Regions from separate parts of the Homo sapiens genome. Here region 1 is linked to region 2. Evidence: fine-mapped expression QTL. A gene starts in region 2. The other region holds a variant in brackets. All regions are shown on one strand. Distances are from middle to middle.

The links.
Region 1: its variant is fine-mapped to the expression of DTX4 in tibial nerve (GTEx, PIP 0.97).

Annotation. Positions count from the first base shown.
Region 1 is chr11:59,188,346-59,197,348 of GRCh38, reverse strand. It overlaps DTX4 (deltex E3 ubiquitin ligase 4), which reads right to left. Exons shown (of 9, transcript NM_015177.2): 3 at 8,553-8,614; 4 at 8,026-8,187; 5 at 6,174-6,235; 6 at 5,099-5,251; 7 at 1,980-2,141. It overlaps LOC124902675 (a long non-coding RNA gene), which reads left to right and starts at 5,247. Exons shown (of 4, transcript XR_007062682.1): 1 at 5,247-7,702. The variant T/ACGT (reference allele first, on the strand shown) is at 4,217.
Region 2 is chr11:59,166,814-59,175,816 of GRCh38, reverse strand. It overlaps DTX4 (deltex E3 ubiquitin ligase 4), which reads right to left and starts at 3,685. Exons shown (of 9, transcript NM_015177.2): 1 at 3,011-3,685. The coding sequence starts at 3,221. LOC124902601 (basic proline-rich protein-like) reads left to right here and starts at 2,372. Exons shown (of 2, transcript XM_047427951.1): 1 at 2,372-2,552; 2 at 3,087-5,742. The coding sequence starts at 2,372. The coding sequence ends at 3,895. It overlaps LOC124902675 (a long non-coding RNA gene), which reads left to right. Exons shown (of 4, transcript XR_007062682.1): 4 at 1,320-2,118. RefSeq lists silencers at 852-921, 3,069-3,118, 3,179-3,748 and enhancers at 2,619-2,728, 2,171-2,999, 3,627-3,921, 4,008-4,548.

The DNA.
Region 1 (9,003 bases), 22 kb before region 2:
CAACCCTCTTACCTCCTCCCACTAAAAATGTTCTCCTCCATTTTTTTATGTCTTTCTAGACTCAACTAGACAATTCCCTGCACTAGAAAGTCTCCTCTAACCCTTCCAGACAGACAGACAGATATAAGCCCTCCTCTTTACCATGACAAGCAGGACCTAAAATGATGTTGACGACCAGGTATTGAGCACCTTGGTACTGTGCTCATTCTTCAATATGCATAGGCAAACGTTATTTCCCATTCTCACCAAACCTCTGCCAATTGGGCTCCTGGCTGGGCAGGTGAAGAAATCAGGCTCCAAAAGGTCAAGGGCCTGTTGTCTAAAACAGCTGTCCCCAACCATTTTGGCCCCAGGGACTGGTTTTGTGCAAGACAACTTTTCAATGGACCGGGGTGGTGGGGGATGGTTTTGGGATGATGCAAGAGCATTACATTTATTGCACACTTTCTTTCTATTGTTATTACATTGCAATATATAACAAAATAATTACACAACTCACCATAATGAAGAATCAGTGAGATACCTGAACTTGTTTCCCTGCAACTAGATGGCCTCATCTGGGCATGATGGGAGACAGTGACAGATCATCAGGCATTAGATTCTCATAAGGAGTGCACGACCTAGATCCGTCACATGCACAGTTCACAATAGAGTTTGTGTTCCTATGAGAATCTAAGGCTGCCACTTATCTGGCAGGAGGCAGAGCACAGGTGGTATTACTGGCTCACCCATCACTCACCTCCTACTGTGCGGCCCCTTCTGTGGCCTGAGGGTTGGGAACCCCTGGGCTGAAGGCACCAGCTAATAAAGACTCAGCTAGGAAGGGGAACCCAGGTCCATTGGACTTTGAAGGCCTGTGTTCTCACTTTGTCTACGTTGCATCTCAGAGGTTTTATTAGTGATGTACATTTATCTTCCCCTGACTGGCTGGTAAGCCCCTCCAGGAAGAACTATGAATTATTCACTTCTTTTACAGGCTATCACAACTTCCTGTTTTATTTCCTCCACATCGATGATCACTATCTGGAGGTACCTTGTTTATTCATTTGTTTCCTTTATGGCCTTCCTGGCCCCACTAGAATAGGGGCTTCAAGGAGCAAGGATTGCGTCTACTTTGCTCATTGCTTCTCCAATGTCTAGAACATGTCTGGACCATAATCCACACTCCATGTTTGTTAAATAAAAGACAAAATGGAAGAAGAAAACTAGGAGGGAGGAAAAGAGGATAGAAGAATTAATATTTGCTAAAGAAATGCATACAGTCAACGGCCCAGAACACTCAGAAAAAGCTTCATTGTGTGAAGGAAGGTGCCACATTTGTATTTACTGGCAGGAATAGTGTTCAGATTTGTTCTTCAGGACTGTCTTTCAGAGAATCAAAAGAGGAAAGAAATGCCCACCAAAATCAAAGCCAAGTATAGCTATCAAATTACAAGTGCAAATACCGTTTGACAAAGAAATTCCACTTCTGGAAAATTATTCTACAGATATATTCACATGTGTACAAGGTTATTCATTCCAGCATTATTTGTTGTAGCCAAAGATTGGCAACAATCCATATGCCCATCAAATGGAGACTGCTGAATGCAAATAGTGGTACATTTATACAATGGATGATTACACAGACACAAGAACGAGGAAGCTCTCTCTATACTGATGTGGAAAGATCTACAGACTACATTGTTAACTGAAAAGCGCAGGGTGCCAAACAATGTGCCTAAATGTCACTGTTTGTGAAAAAAAAAAGGGAAGGGTGGATGCGATTTTCTGTTGTGTGTGCACAAAGAATCCTGGAAGGATACATAGGAAAGTCAGAACAATAGTGTTGAGTCGGGGGATGTAGTGTCAGCGGGCAAGGCTGGGTAGATGGCGGAAAAGTGTGGGAAGGAGACTCTTCATATGTAACTTTTTACCTACAAACACATAGAACAATAAAAACCAAGGGGTGACAGAAAGGCTCACCTGAGAGAAAGGCTCACCTGAATGCCGGGGGGGATGCTGTAGATGATCCGGATGGTTTTGCAGTCTGGGTGGCCAGGCAAGGAGTGGGGGATGAGGTGGTACTCCATCTTCCCTGGAGGTTGGGTGCCTGTCTTCACCCCATAAATGGTCTTGCAGGTTGGACACTGCAAACTTCCATCCTGAGGGGCCAAGGCCAGAAGAGCCAGATTGGGAAACAGTTTTGGTAATAACTTTCCCACCCAGTCCCAAAAGGTACCAGAGATGAAGGGCCAGGGGAACAAAATGCACCCTGGTGAGTGATAGATCTTAGTTTTTCCCTCCCAGCCCAGTCACCTAGGCTATTTCTGCTTTCTCCAAAGTAATAGGAGGTAAATTCCACAACTGGTCCCATGCTCCATGCTGAGGGATATGTAAGAGAAGCCCCTGTCCCTGAGGAGGGGACCAGCTCTCTAGGGCAGGAGCCTACACAGGGAGTCATTATTCAGCCACTCAGTACCAAATGGGTGGAACAGACAGAAAGACCTGGAGAGCAGCAACTGCCCAGTTCCTGAGCATCAGAATCACCCACAGAGCTTGTTAATCACACAGATGCCTGGGCACCACATCGGGTCCACTGAGTAAGAACTGGGAAGCTGCAAAGCATAATGTTTCAGGCTGTGAATGTGAAAATCAGACTGCCTAGACGTAATTCTTAGCTCTGCCATCTGACTGCTGTGTGACCTTGGACAAATTAATTAACTTCTCTGAGTCTCAGTTTCCCTTATAGGAGAAGGATAAAAAATATCTGTCTCATCGGGTTGTTGGGAGAATTAAATGAGATAATCTATAGGAAGATCTTAGCATGTGGTGTATCTAAATGTTATTAGCATTTTTATAATTTCCATGGAAAGACTGATGCTCATACAGGTTTGGAAACTACTGCTATGAAAAGAGAAATTGGCCACTAAGAGCTGGAGTAAATGAGGATAACTTTAAGAAAATGGTCCTTGAAGAATAGCTATGAATTTGCTTAGAAGGATAGAGTGTAAGGTCTGCACAAATACCTAGAAGAGAGAATGATGCCAGTAATTATAGTGCTTTAAATCATACTATAAAGAGTTTAATATTTCTTGTTTCATTTAGGCTTTAGCTTCTGACAATGGCCTGGAAGAAATTATTAGCCCCTTTTTGTAGAGAGGAAAATCGAGGCACAGCAAGATTAAAGGACTTCCTGCTTGTCAGGGTGTGGGGTCTGTTTAAACCCCCAGCTTTGCATTGCAACTCGGTGGCTCCATTAGTGGGAAGAGGCAGTTCTGGATGCAGGGGTGTACAGGGTGACGGTTTCACTGCAGGACCTGGTGAGGTGCTGCCTGGAGGAGGGCCTGGACACCGAATCCTATTCCCAGGCTCGCAAAAAGGAGGGGCAAAGAGAAGGAAGGCGCATGGGCTGGGAGCAACGTGTGTAAAATGTGCTGCTGCGCAGCTGGGATGAAAGCTTGCCAGGACATCCCCAACTCCTCGGGAAGACAGGGATCCTCTGCTGAGCTATTTAGGGACTTCTCCAGTCTACTCGCTTAAAGCAATAGCTCGTATTCAGGGTGACTATTCTCTGAAACCAGGTTCCCACTTTCTGCTTTGGCCTTGACTTGCTTCATGACCTAGGGTGAATCACTCCTTTCTTCTTGGGCCCTTTTCTCTCATGTGTTTGATAAAATAAAAACACATGCTTCAAAGTATTAGTGCAAAAGAGAATAAAGCATAGACTCTTGAGAAACATTTTTGAAAGCCCCATGGAAATAAATGTAGAGTTACCATATTCTTCTTGAATATAGACATCAAATAGGGAACAAATGTGCTAAGAAACCCCTTTAAGCCCAAAATAACTTCTTGAAATGCAAGATCCCAATGAATCCTTTTAGCCCAGGGTTGGGAAAGTGAGCAAGTGATCCAGATTTGCATCCCCCATCAATGACTGACCACCACTATAAGCATGTCTCTCAGGGACACCAAGAAAGCACTTTGGGAACTTCAATCAAATAGGCTACATGAAGATGAAGGAAAAAATTACAGCCTTTAATACAAAGGCGATATCAATTTGAATAATAATAGCATAAGACCCCATAAAGTAGGTATAGTTTTAATCTCCATTTTCCAGATGGAAAGTCTCTCTCAGAGATTGGAAAACCTTGTCCAAGGTCATTCAGCTAATAAGCCAGGATTCAAGCTCAGGTCTCCCACCTCTCTTACCTCTACTTCTTTCCCACAGTAAGAGACG[T/ACGT]ATAGACCAGACCAGACAGACGTATAATCCAGACATACTTCTTGCTTAGTGAGAGGTTGGGAGCTATCAGGGAGATCTCAGACTCTGATGTAATCTAAGCTTGGCCTGGAGAAATAAGTACTCATGGAAATAGGGAGTAAAAGTTATCTCAGGTACACGAAAGAACATGAGTCAATGACTTAGGAAATGCTCAGACACTGTAAGGAGAGAATGATCACCTATGGAGTCTTCCAGATTCCAAAGAACCAGCTCTAATGAGGGGATACCATTGCATTGTCAGATAATAGACAAGACAAGCATCCCAAACAGCCTTCCCCTCTTCCAACAGTGGGATTCTAGGGCAGGGATTACCAGGTGTACTTTGGCAACAGTCTTTAGTACCTTTGAAGGGCCAATCAAGGGTGTTTTGAAATTGTCCAAAGAAAATTGTAGCTGAAAATCACTAACCCTGGGGAAGAAAGGGTGATTGGGAAACCCATTTACAATGGTATGAACGAATACTCACCATGGGTCTAGCGCTGTGATAAGAACTTCCTTCTCTCTCACTGATGGGAGCACACTTCACCTAGCAATGGGCCATGACAATGGGCCACTCCCCTCAGAACCCTCAGGGGCAAAACCTACCCCACTCTTAGACCTGACACCGAAGATGGAGAATTAGATAGCACAGCCCAAAAGGGAAGGTGAAGACAGGTCTTACCAGCACTGTAATTTAGTAAAGAACTGATCCTGCTGAGAACAGCCAAGATCATCACTCTTGCCTAGGGATAACCTCTAAGACTTCCCAGATCACTTGAGCAAGGGCCCTAAAGGGCCTTCACCATCTTGCTACTCCAGAGCCCAGTGTGAAGGGTGGCAGGAGCCCCATAGGCTGGCACTGACCTTGTTCCCATTGTTGTACATGGCAACCAAGCAGTAGATGTGGTAGACGTGGCCGCATCTGGACAGCTTCCCTACCAGGTCAGGTTTTACCGTAGGCTGCGGGCCCTTGTAGCCTGAGGGGGCCGTGAGGCGTTCCATACAGATGGTGCAGTCCTGGGGAGGGAGGAGACACAGCAGAGAGGCTGTCAGCTCTCACTCAGCCTGGGAGATTTCCACATGATCTCAGAGGTCAGATGAGCTCTTACCACTTCTCTTCTAAAACACCCACAAATCAGGGTGTAAGTGCTTTCTGGAATCTAAATATCGTTTTGTCTTTACACAACAACGTCCTGAAATAATTCCTGGTACTGATTAACTTGGGCTCATCATCTAAATTATCATAATCGTGAGGGCTATAACAATGCACTGTCCTTCTGTTTTGTCCTTCAACGGCTTATGGAGGAAACAAATACTGTCAACAAGCCCACTGAGGAGCTTTACTTAAGGTGAATTTTTAAGGAATGTAAAGGAATTGTATTTTAACTGTACCAGAGGGACGGCTATTTAAATAAATGTCCAACAGGGTTTCTAAACCTCAGAACTATTTACATTTTGGGGAGGACAATTCTTTGCTGTGAGGACTGTCCTGGGCATTGTAGGGTGGTTAGCACCATCCCTGGCCTCTGCTCTACTCACAAGGTCCTGAGAATAATGACGACCAAAAATGTCTCCAGACATGGCCAAATGTTCCCTCAGGGGCCAAATTGTCTCTGGTTGAGAACCACTGTTCTGTATCAAACCCATTTTAAGGTGAGTTCTTGTGGCTTATCACACTGTTTTTCCTAAATTGAGACTGTCATGTTAAGGTAGCTTAAAAACAACCAGCACTATGCTGAAGGGGGAGGCGGGAGAGATTGAGGTGCAGCTGCAGCTCTGGACCATGGACCTTGAACCCTCAGTGTCAGTTCTGACCAGTTCTGTATCCATGAGAACTTGGAATGCAGCCCCCGCCATATCCTGTAGAAACCAACAGCAGAAGAGGAAATGCTTGTGGGTGATGGAGAGGTGAATCCCGCTCTTCTAACCCTGAACTCACCTCATCTGGTGGGTGCCGGACTTTCTGTAGATATTTTTTTAGCACTTCCTCTGGGGTTTTACCTGCAGAGACAGGAGGTTCAGTGGGCCACCAAGGCAGAGGTAAGAGATCAAACAGCCTTGTCGTGCTAGACATGGTAGAGGGGGACGTTATCAGGCAAGTTAAAAGCAAAAAGGGGAGGAATTCCTTCTGCAATTTAAGTTAAGAACATGGAAGAGAGTATGGATTGTGGAAAAGCTAGTGAGATGGTTTGACGAGAAGGCTTTATTTCTTGCAGTCCCTTTTCTGACATCTCTCTGCCTATTTTCAACAAACCACTTTTTTAATTGAGAAGAGTTGAGTGGGTTTCTCTTCCTTATAATCAAATGATTTGATAACAGCACTTTGCAAACTGTTACACGTTAAATAGATGTTAGGCAGTCTTACCACCTTCATTTTACAATTTGCTAAGTGTAGTCTCAATTTATAATGTGGTGTCAAAGTGTGATTATTTTTATGGGAAACAAGGAAGTTATGACCCACGACTCCAGAACAATCTTTCCTGGCTGTGGATGGCACTGTCACTGCCAGCCAGCACAGTCCTGCAGCAGGGGAAGGGTGATCCTCTGGGAAGCATCCTGATGGGCTGCAATGATTTAGGGATTTTTTTCAGGGGACTGGACTCTTAAAAGGTAGCCCAACCTGAAGGTAGAGGATGGGATGATATAACCTGAAAAATGATCAGTGCTACCTTGGGCCACTCCCTTAATTTCTCTAAGCTTCTGTTTTCTCACCTATGAAATGGGGATGAGCAATAGCACTACCTCAAAGGGTTGCTTTGACAATTGAATGAGCAAATGGATGTACTGCCCTTTAGCTCTCTGCCAGATAAGGGCCCGATATGCACTATTAATAATAACAGGAAGAGTGGGAAAGTGTAAAATGCTGTTATTTCCGATAAGACTATGAGCAAGGCAATTGAGCTCATTTAAGCAGGGAAATCTTGACGGACTGGAAAAGTAGGACAAGGGTTTGAGGAAGTGGATCATGCAACAGCCAAAAGCTTCGATGCAGGCCCTTTCCTCCAGTTGCCCTGCTTCTCTTGTAAGAATTAAGCTCTAGTAATTAAGAGCCTATTTCTTGCCAGGCCCTGGGCTAAGTGCAACACACACATGATCCAATTTAAACTTCACAAGCCTGCAAGATTGGGGCTTAGGGAGATGGTCAAATTTAACAACTAATGCCAGTGACCAGAAAGACAAGCCACAGAGCTAAGCTGGGGTCCTGCAGTGCTAGGAAGGTACAGATATTGACCCCTTATTTGCCGGATTGCCTGCAGGTAGGAGGGGGTTCCTAAAGGAGGATTTCAGAGCAGAGATTTCTGTAGGTTCTAGGGGGACACAGGACAGGGACTACTTCCTAACTGTCATGGATGCATTCCAGGATATACCTGCTGGATACCAGTTATACCAGTTGTGACTATTTTTACTTCATTATAAAGATGAGAAAATAGGGGCTCCATGTGGTCACACAACTTGCAAGAAACAAAGGTACGATTTGAATCCAGTCTGTTTTGGTTCCAATGCCAAAGTCATCTTTCTCTTCTAACATATTTTCTTTGTACCACGCCTTATATTTTTATGTTTCTATACTTTTGCATTGTATATTTTTATTTCTCAAGGTGTTTCCATCTGATCCATACACATCAGCTGTGGTATAATCGTCAAGATTTACTGGTTAGGCCCACTTACAGATGCAGAAATTGAGGCACAGAGGGTGAAGCCGTGGCTATGACCCTTGGAGGTTGAGGCAGACTCAGGGCTGACAGCCAAGTCTTTGACTCTCAGTACCCCACGAGACAAGAGGCTGGTACCTTTCTTGGCTTGTTTTTTGGTGGTCTTGCGGCTTGTGTTGGAAACCCCTGGGATGGATTTTATTTCACTCTTGCTGACGGGGGGTGGGTGTAGGACCAGCTTTGGTGGCCTGGTGAGACACACAGGCAGCCCCGCTGCACTCATGAGGATCCCAGTGATTCCTGGAAGGGGCAGGGCATGGGTGAGGAAAGACTGGAGACTTAGCTCTCAACATTCCCCAAATTCCTCTTTCCCCATTAACCTACTCTCCTCCTTTCCAGCAGAAAGTTCTCATAATTCCTGGATTCTCTACCCTGTACTTTCCCCAGAAACTTATTCATTCACTCACTTATCTTCAATTGCATGCTTTCCTTTTAGTAATCAGTTCTCTTCCAAACTCTTCATACCCTTCCCATGCAATTCCTAAAATCACCATTTGCTTTCATTAATATCTAGATTCTCTCCTTTTTTTCCACAAATGCTCATGACCTATTTCATCACTCTGATTTCTCTACCTTAACCCAGAGCATCCTGGGGTTTCTCTTACCTGCCAAGGCAGGGTTGACAGGACTGGACCCATTTAGGTTCTTCACTGGGACTGTGGGGACCCTGTGAAAGGAAAGAGCAGATACAATGTCATTTTGACACGTGGAACAAAATGGACCAGTATTTAATTCTAATAAAATGCAGTTAAGTGCTTAACACAGCAGACAGCAGGAAGTGACATCTTCAAAACCTAAGTCAGGCCATGTCATGCCACCACTCAGAACCTCAGAACTATGTTCCTCAGTTCACTCAGAGTCAAAGTTAAAGTCCTAGCAAGGCCTACAGAGCCCAGCACGATCTGCCAACACTGCCACCCAGCTTCTCTTATTCATCTTGCTTCCTCTCATATCACTCAGCTCTCAAGGAGCCAGGTGCACTCCTGCCTCAGAGCCTTTGCATATGCTGTTCCCTGTACCCAAAATGCCCTTCCACCAGACAACTGCTTAGTTTCC
Region 2 (9,003 bases):
CTCCACTCTCAGCCTGGATCTTCCGCATCCTGCTACTGAAAACCTGGAGTTGGTAGGGTCAGGCATGCTGAAAGGTACAGGGGAAAGTGATGCTGAAGTAAAGCTCTTCAGTCACTGCCCTACAACAGAAAAAGGACAACCCAGTCAAGGTAAATGATGGCAGGTGGAGAGGGGCCCACCGAGGCTTTTGGAAGTGGCCAAGAGCCAGTCCCATCTATCTCACCCCATCTCTACCCTTATTCCAGATTCTCTAGCCCAAAATGCCTAGAGAAGACTGGCATAGAATGCAAATAAGATCAGACCTCTAGGCAGTCTGGGGAAGGAGAAGGGCCCAGGGCAAACAGAGGCGGGCAGACGGGTGTCTGGGACCTCCCAGCCATCTCCCTGGAGACAGGCTGGATGAGGTCAGGAGCCCAGGCGAGTGGAGAGCCTGAGGACTCTATCAGCAGCAGAGCAAGCAACTTCTAAAAAGACAAAGCTCTCATGTCAGGAAATGTCCCCATACAGAGGAGGCAACAAAAAAGGAGAGGAATCGCCTCTGGGCAGGGGACTTCCAGATCTCTTTTGTTTATGGGGATGTTTCTGGTTCCCAGCTTTGAATTATGGCTTAAGGATGGTGGGTAATTTAATTAAACATTGCAAGGGCTTAGCTGAGGTTGCCTGGGAGCCACTGGTTTAAAGTTCCTACCCTGTCATGGCCTCATCAATGAGATTGAGAGGAACTATGAGTGTGTTGGTGGAGAAGGGAGAGGAGGGGGCTCAGAGCTAAGAAACCCAGAGATTCTTCTATTCTTCTTTGACAAGCGCCCTGACAGACCCAGCTTTTCTGGGAATTCAGCCCAGTGTCCGCAGCACCCAGCACAGGGCCTGGCGCACAGCAGAGAGGTATTCAGGATGGCTGACTGACTCTAGCAATGAGCGGATGAAACCACAGCAGTCTGATGATAAACACACCCTGAGGCAGCCTTTAAAATGATTCAGGGCAAGTTCTCTGCCTGAGGTTTAAAGTCCAGGGAGCGCCAGCCTCTGACTAAATTGCTCACCACCAGGCAGTCCTCAGGTAAGAGTGATCAGACCTGGGAAACGTAGCTTCTTTCCTTCCACCCAGTTTTCTCTACAACTTCGCTTCTGTAGAAAGGGTCATGAACCTTTGTAGATACCTTGCCTATCCTAAGTACCCCCAAACACAGATTCCACCTTTGCCCTTTCCAAATGTGGGAAAGGGGCTGAGACGTTTCTGTCACAAGGGTGGTTTTCCAAATGCTGTAGAGATTTACTCTGAAATAGAAAAGGTAACACCTGCTTTTTTTTTTTTCCAGGACTGGAATCCCCTGTCAGATGCTTTAACTGCTGGTCTCTCTCTCTCTCTCTGGTCCCACCTCCGTGGCTCAGCTCCGCCCAACACACACCCCCTCCACCCTCACCTTCTGATGCCTCCACCCTCACCTCCACAACCTTTACCCAAGTTGCGCAATGACATTCTCTCCCTCCCCCTCAGCCACACTTAATCCTCTTTCTCAATCTCCCCACATTCCTCTCTATTCTCTGCTCCTCCCAGTCTCCCTCAGCTCCACACACGGTTGAAGCCCCTCCAGATTCTAACACTTCCAGAATCCTCTCCCCAGAAAGCTCTCCTCAATCAGCCAGTGTCTGCAGAGTCCTTGGCAAAGGGGTTGCTGGGAGTTATGACTAAAGATGGGGACATGAGGGTGGAAAGATACCCCTTTCCCATGACAATCCTAATTAGCACACAGGATGTGGGGGCTTTCCAAGGAAGCAGAGAGACTCTGCTCAAACAGCTGTTCACTGGGGAGGGCCTTTCCGAGTCATCTTCTCTACGTCCTCCCCAGCACACCGGCCTCTCCAGGCTCCTCGGTTGCACTCTTGGGAAAGCCGAGCCAGAATTCCAGAAACAATGGCCCCCTCCCCACCTGTCACTGACGGAGGCAGAAACTCTTCCCGGGTCATCGATTAAGCAAGGACCGAGCAAAGAGAGGCAGTTTTGCTCTCCCTTGGGCAGCACCCCCACTCCCCACCCCCCAAGGCCCCATCCTGGAGGCTCCCTTCCTGGCTCTGACCTGGAAAGGCAGGTCAGCTGGGAAGCGGGTTTGTGCTGGCTACAGTGACAACTTGATTCTCATGAAAAGATAGGAGTTTGGCGCTCCAGGAGACCATGGGTTCCTTACAGGCTATGGTTTCAAGAGGAAGCCTGGGGACAGTTTCTCCTTAGGAATCTGCGTCCTCCTCCTCCGCAGACAAAGGGAGCGGCTTCCCTGCCATGCATTCCGAAGCCCCGAGCCTCCCCCTCCTCTCTCCATCTGCTCCGGCCTGTTGCTTCCGCGCATGTAGTGTGTAGCAGAGGCATTCGCCAATGCCGCGGCGTCCAGGGTACCCCAGCCCTAGTCTCTCCTCCCAGGGAGCCCGGCGCTTCCCTTACCCGACTGTAGCGAGAACCTCCGGGGAATCCCTTCTTCCTCCCCCAGTTCCCACACCCAGGACCCAGCTGCGGGGAGGCATCCCACACAGGAGACGCAGAGGCAGTGAGATCGGGGGTGAGGGGACGTGTGGCAAGCCCCAGCGTGCCTGAAGCAAAACAGGGTCAGGTCAGCCAAGGTGCCGGCCGCCACGGGATGAGGGCAGGAAGCCTTTGCGAAGGGCTGGGATTGCCTGTAGTCTGGGGCGGCCCTAGAATTTCTACATAGAAAGACTTAGGGCCACCAACTGCTGAAAAGCGGGGGCATGAAAGGGGTGGGGAGTGGATTGTTACCGACTAGGTTGAAGCTGGGTTTGCAAAACCACAACACTGATACTATTTGCATGGATGTTTAAGGGGGAGGGAGGATCCTGCGAGGATTCAGCGGAGTGAATCGCCTCCCACCACCACCTCTTGGTGACACTGCTGCACAGAAGTGCCGACTAGGTGGCCAAGGTGGGTTCACAGGGAGGGAGGTACCTTGGCAGGTTGGGAAGGTGGGAGCAGGCGGGGCGGGGTCAGGGGCGGCTGGCTCACCCGTGTCTTGGCGGAACTGGTTCATGGACTGCAGGTCGATGATGTAGGGCGCGAGACGGCTGTCCACCTGGCCCAGCACCACGCTGCCCCCCGCGCGGGGGCCGGCGCGGACCACCGCCTCGATGTGGTGGCTCACCGCTGGGCTGTAGGGACGCCAGCGGCCGTGCTCGTTCAGCCATTCCCAGACCACCACGGCCGAGGCCAGGAGCATGGCGAGCCCGGGGCTGCGGCGCTGCGCGGCCCGCCTCCCGGGCCCCGAGCGCCCGACCTCCTCCGCTTCCTCCTGCGCCGCCGCCTCCGGGCCTCGACCGCGCCCCCTGCCCCGCGCCCCGCCGCCCCGGGCAGCCTCAGCTCCGGCCCATGGGCTCCTCCCCAGCCGTGCATCCACCGGGGCCGGGACACCGGGGCCGCCTGGCTGGGACCGCGCGCCGCCGCCGCCGCCGGGGTCCGCTGCTGCTGCCGCTGCTCTGTGGGGTCGAGTCGCTTCATGCAAATGCCCGGCTCTCTGCAAACAGGCCCCCGCCTTGCAAAAGCCACTCGGCGGGCGCGCGGCCCGAGCCCCGGCGGCCGCGAGCTGGGGCTGACGGCGAGGCAAGGACCCAGCCCTCGCACCAGTTGCGCCTCGGCCTCTGCAGACGCCGGGGTGGGATCTCGCCGCACGGCCGCGCTCGGAATGGCACGCTCTGGTCCCCTCCCCTCTCTCCCTCCCTCCCCACCCCTTCGCCGCACGAATTGCAGTCCCCGCCGCTGGGAGAGCTCCCCCTGCCTGTGGCTCTGCTCAGTTCCTTCCAGAATGAACCACCCCTCCCAAGCAGGGCGCTAAGGCAAACCCGCGCCCGCGTGTGTTTCCCTGGTTCCTTGATGCAGAGAAGCGACCCGCCATGACACGGCCCCGGGACCACCACTGTCGCCCAGCCGCAACTTTGCAGCCTCCTTCCCCCAAATGTAATTTTCTCTCTCTCTCTCTTTTTTTTTCCTTAATGCAGCATGATCAGTGTCCGCAGCGCGAACTGGAGACACGCATTGTCTCGGGGCTTGCGCACGCACTGGCACACTCACAGTCGCACACACACGCGCGCGCACCCCAACTCCTTCCTTGCCCCGGCTCCTATTACCTCATCCTCTCCCGCATCCTTAGCTGTCCGTCAAGGAAGCAGAAGACACGCCCCCTGCTGCTCGGGCGAGTGCCCTGGAGCTTACCCGCCCCCTGCTGGCCTAAAGTGTCGTGTGCCGGCCAGTGGCCACTCCAACCTCTGCTAATGAGACCCAGTCCAAAGGGATGCAGCAATTTCGCTAATGATGGATTTATATTACCTACGTAGAGAGCAAATGTGGTTTTTCTGGCCAGATTCAACGTACTAGAGTCAGGAAGACGCATGTTAGATTAATTTTATCTGCATCGTTTCTGTAACTAAAATTATGAAACACTAGGAAAAACACGAGTTAGACTTATTTTGATCATCAATAGTTAATATGGAAAATAACCTTAAATAGGTAGGTTCTGACTAAAAGGGAAGACTGAAGTCAGGATTATGCATTATCCTTGTCAAAGAACACAAATTTTGTTTTGTTGAGATTGCAAACCACATAAAACAACGAATCGAGTCTTATCAAGATCCAAGTTATAGGATGCGGGAAAGTAAAAATAGATTATGTGTTAGAGAATGGGATTGTGAATCTTTTTGAAATAATCAATTTTTTCATAAATATCATATGACCCTTTTATGTTTTAGAAGAGTTGCTTCCCCCTCCCTCTCCTTGCAGCTGTCATTTCTCCCATTGTTAGAATTTTGCATCCTTCTACCTTTATCTTTCTCCCAACAGAGTTCTAAATACAAAGCAAAAGAAAAAGTGTGAGATCTGTTCTTCTTCAGGCCCCTAAAGGCACCAGGCTCAAGGAACCTCTGAGCTTTGTTCTTTCTGGTCTTCTTGCACAGCTTGGCCTCCAAAATGCCTAGTCGGCCTCTCCCTTATTTGGGGACTGTTCCTAATCCAACCTAAACAATACCACTCATTAAAATGTCGAGTTTCAGAATTAGAAGAACAAAAAGAAAACAAGGATACCTCGACTAATTATATCATAGGCCATTATTATTACCATTTTACAAATGACAGGACTTAAGGAATTTAAACTATTTGCCCTAGATTACATAGCTAGTTAGAGGGGAAACCAGTATTCAAAATTTAGTTGGGCTGTCTCAAAAGAAAATGCCTGTTCCATAGCATGTCCTATACAACACAGAGGTGGCACAATAACAGGCAATGTAGAAGTGTCTCAGTGTGAAAGAAGGGAAGGGAGAAAATGGGGGTAGAATTTTCTGGAAAAGAAACAGAAGGCAAACTGAAGAAAAAGTAATTTAAAAATTTATTGGGCTACTTTTATTTCTAGTCATAAAAATGGAAAGTATCAAAACTCAGGAAACTTTCTTATAGTCTTGGTAAGTATGAATCAAAAAGTGAAGAGTAATGATTCAAGGGGATATTGGAAGTACCAGCGAAAATATAGCACCTGACCAGCTAAGCCAGAAATTCCAAGGTGAAAAAAATCTAAACTAGATAAGCAGGCTACCAGCAAATGTTAGATGAGCTGTTTGAAAGGCGAATGGAAGGCAGAAGGAAACTGACGCCTACCTGCCTATGTCCAGCCTAGTTTTGTATCTGGTCTTCTTGTATCTTCCATGTTAAACACAACAGAGTATTACAGCAGAATAAAAATATCTTATGACATGTGAGAAGGTTTGTATGTAGTCTGATTCATTTGCAAGAGGAAGTGAATACACACACACACATACACACATATACACACAAATGAGAGGGGTCTTTAAAATTTTATGGAAAATGCATATTATGAAAAAACTAGGCTGGTAGTTCAAATTGTTTTTTTGCACCCAAATAAACTCATACTAACTTGTTATAACATGTCTGAACAGGATCTAGTTTGAGACACTAAGAAGGGTAAGACAATGCCCTTACTGAAGAGGATCAAGGATTAGCAGTCAAAACAATAGCCTACACCATAGATATGTCAACTGGTTCAGCTTACACAATTCTGACAAAGAAATTAAACTTTCCATTCCTTGATAGGTGCCAAAACCATTGCACCCAGGTTGGCCACAGACAAGAGCAGGCCTTTCAATAGAGATTTTAAATGGGTGGGATCAGGATCATGAAACATTTCTTTGAAGAATTGTAACAGGAGATGAAACATTACCAGTATAATCCTGATGACAAGGAACAACCAAAGCAATGGCTATCAAGAGGTAGAAGTGGTCCAGTCAAAGCAAAAGTGCACTGGTCAAAAGCAGAGACCATGGCAACAATTTTTTGGAGATGCTCAAGGCATTTTACTTACTGACTTTCTGGAGGGCCAGAGAACAATAACATCTGCCTAATATGAGAGTATTTTGCAAAAATTAGCAACAGCTTTAGGATAAAATACCTGGGAAAGCTTCACCAGAGTCGTTCTCCACCATGGCAATGTTCATGCTCATTCCTCTCATCAAACAAACGCACTTTTGTGAGCAATTTGATGGAAAATCTTTTAATCTGCTGTACAGTCCTGATTTGGCTCCTCTGACTTCTTTTTGTTTCCTAATCTTAAAAAATTTTTTAAAGAGCATCTGTTTTTCTATAGTAAAGTAAAACTGCATTGATATGGTTAGGGTCCCAGGACACTCAGTTCTTTAGTGATGGACTAAATGATTCATATCATCACCTACAAAATATCTTGAACTTGATGGTGCTTATGTTGAGAAATAAAGTGTACATTTTTTATTTTGTTTTTTAATTTTATTTTTCACAAACTTTTGGAAGTCCCCTCGTGTTTGTGTGTGTATGACTTGACATTAATAGTAAATTATAGATGTAAAATATTTGTATTTTAATAATCCATGATAATTTATAGTTTATCATGACCCAATTAGAAATAATAATTTATAATTATGTATAAATAATTATTATATATGTATATACATTTCTTAGATCTTCTAACACAATCCTAATTTCAAATAATCTGTACCATAAACCCTGAAAATCTCAGAAATTCCATTTTATTTATTTATTTATTTTTTGAGACAAAATCTTGCTCTTGTCCCCTAGGCTGGAGTGCAATGGCATGATCTCGGCTCACTGCAACCTCCTCCTCCCAGGTTCAAGCGATTCTCCTGCCTCAGCCTCCCCAGTAGCTAGGATTACAGGTGCCTGTGACCAGGCCCGGCTAATTTTTGTAGTTTTAGTAGAGATGGGGTTTCACCATGTTGGCCAGGCTGGTCTCGAACTCCGGACTCAGGTGATCCGCCCGCCTTGGCCTCCCAAAGTGCTGGGATTACAGGCATGAGCCACCGTGCCTGGCCGACATTCCATTTTAGTATCCAAACTATATCTCCCAAATTGTCTCCTGTACTCATAAGTGGCATAAAAATCTTTAACCAAATGATATGCCAAATTTTTAATTTGAACATATGATGGCTATAATAAAACCTCACTAATTGAGACTATGAAGCCAGTTTTGAACTGTTCAAAGGTACAATTTGATGATACTTCAAAAAAGGTCGTCATTGTCTAACACAAAGATTCAGTGAAAAAGCCGCTTCTCTTCTTTTTCTGTGGAATGTTCATAGACAAAGCCCTTTTTTTTTTCAATTACCTATTATTATGTAATAAAGCACCCTAAAACTGGTGGCTAAAAACAGCAGCAAGCGTTTATTTTTCAAACACATCTGCACTTTGGGGAGGGCTTCCAAGGACAGCTGGTCTTTGCTACACACAGCATTAGCTCAAGGGAGCTCTCAGGAAAGCAGGTGGCTGGAATCATCTGTAGGTTTGCTCATTCATAAGTCTACTGCTTGATACTGGCTGTTATCTGGGCACTCAACTAGGGCTATCAGCCCAAGTACCTACACATGGCCTGTCCATGTGATTGATGGGCATTCTCACAACACAGAAGTTAGTTTCCAAATAAACGAGAGGCAAGAGAAAAAGCCAGGCAGAAGATGCATTGCATTTTAATTTTTTATTTTAAAATAATTTAAATTCACATGCAGTTATAAGAAACAGACAGAGCCTGTGTATCCTCAACATCCCATAAAACTATAGGAAAACTATAGTGCAATACCATTGCTGATATTGACACAGTTAAGATACAGAATGGTTACAATTCTGCTCCATTATTGATATAATACCATTGTGTCACACATTATACAATACACATTTTGTATACAATATACATTTTCCACACCACAAGGATTTCTCATGTTGCCCTAAAAGGTCACACCCACTAATTCCTCCCCACTACCATCCTGTCCATAACTCCTGGCAATAACTAATATGTTCTCCATATTTATGATTTTGTCATTTCAAGAATATTATGCAAATGGATCATAGAGCATTCAATCTTTTAAGATAGGCTTTTTCCACTCAGCTTAATTCTCTAAAGATTCATCCAAGTTGTGTGTATCAAGAGAAGTTTGTTTCTTTTTATTGCTAAGTAGTGTTCCATAGTATCCATGGACCACCTTACTGTTCATCCATGGAAGTTCATATAAGTTGTTTCTAGTTTGGGCTATTATGAATAAAGCTACTATGAACACTCTCATCCAGGTTTTTGTGTGAAGGTAAAGTATCCATTTCTCTGTGATAAATGCCTAGGAGTACAATGGCAAGGTCATAGGGTAGTTGCATGTTTAGCTTTTTTAACAAACTGCCAGTTTTCTAAAGTGGCTGCACCATTTTGAATTTTCACCAGCAATATACCCATGATCTGGTCACTACATCTTCACCATCATTTTTTGGTCAGTATATTTTATTTTAGCCATTTTGGTAAGTGTGTAGAGTTATTTCATTGTTTTTAACTTGTTTCCTTATTGACTAATAATGTTGAACATCTTTCCATGCGTTTATTTGCCATATATGCTCTTTGATATCTGTTCAGGTCTTTTGCTGGTTTCTGTTTTCTATTATTGAAATTAGAGAGTTCTTTTTATATTCTAAATATT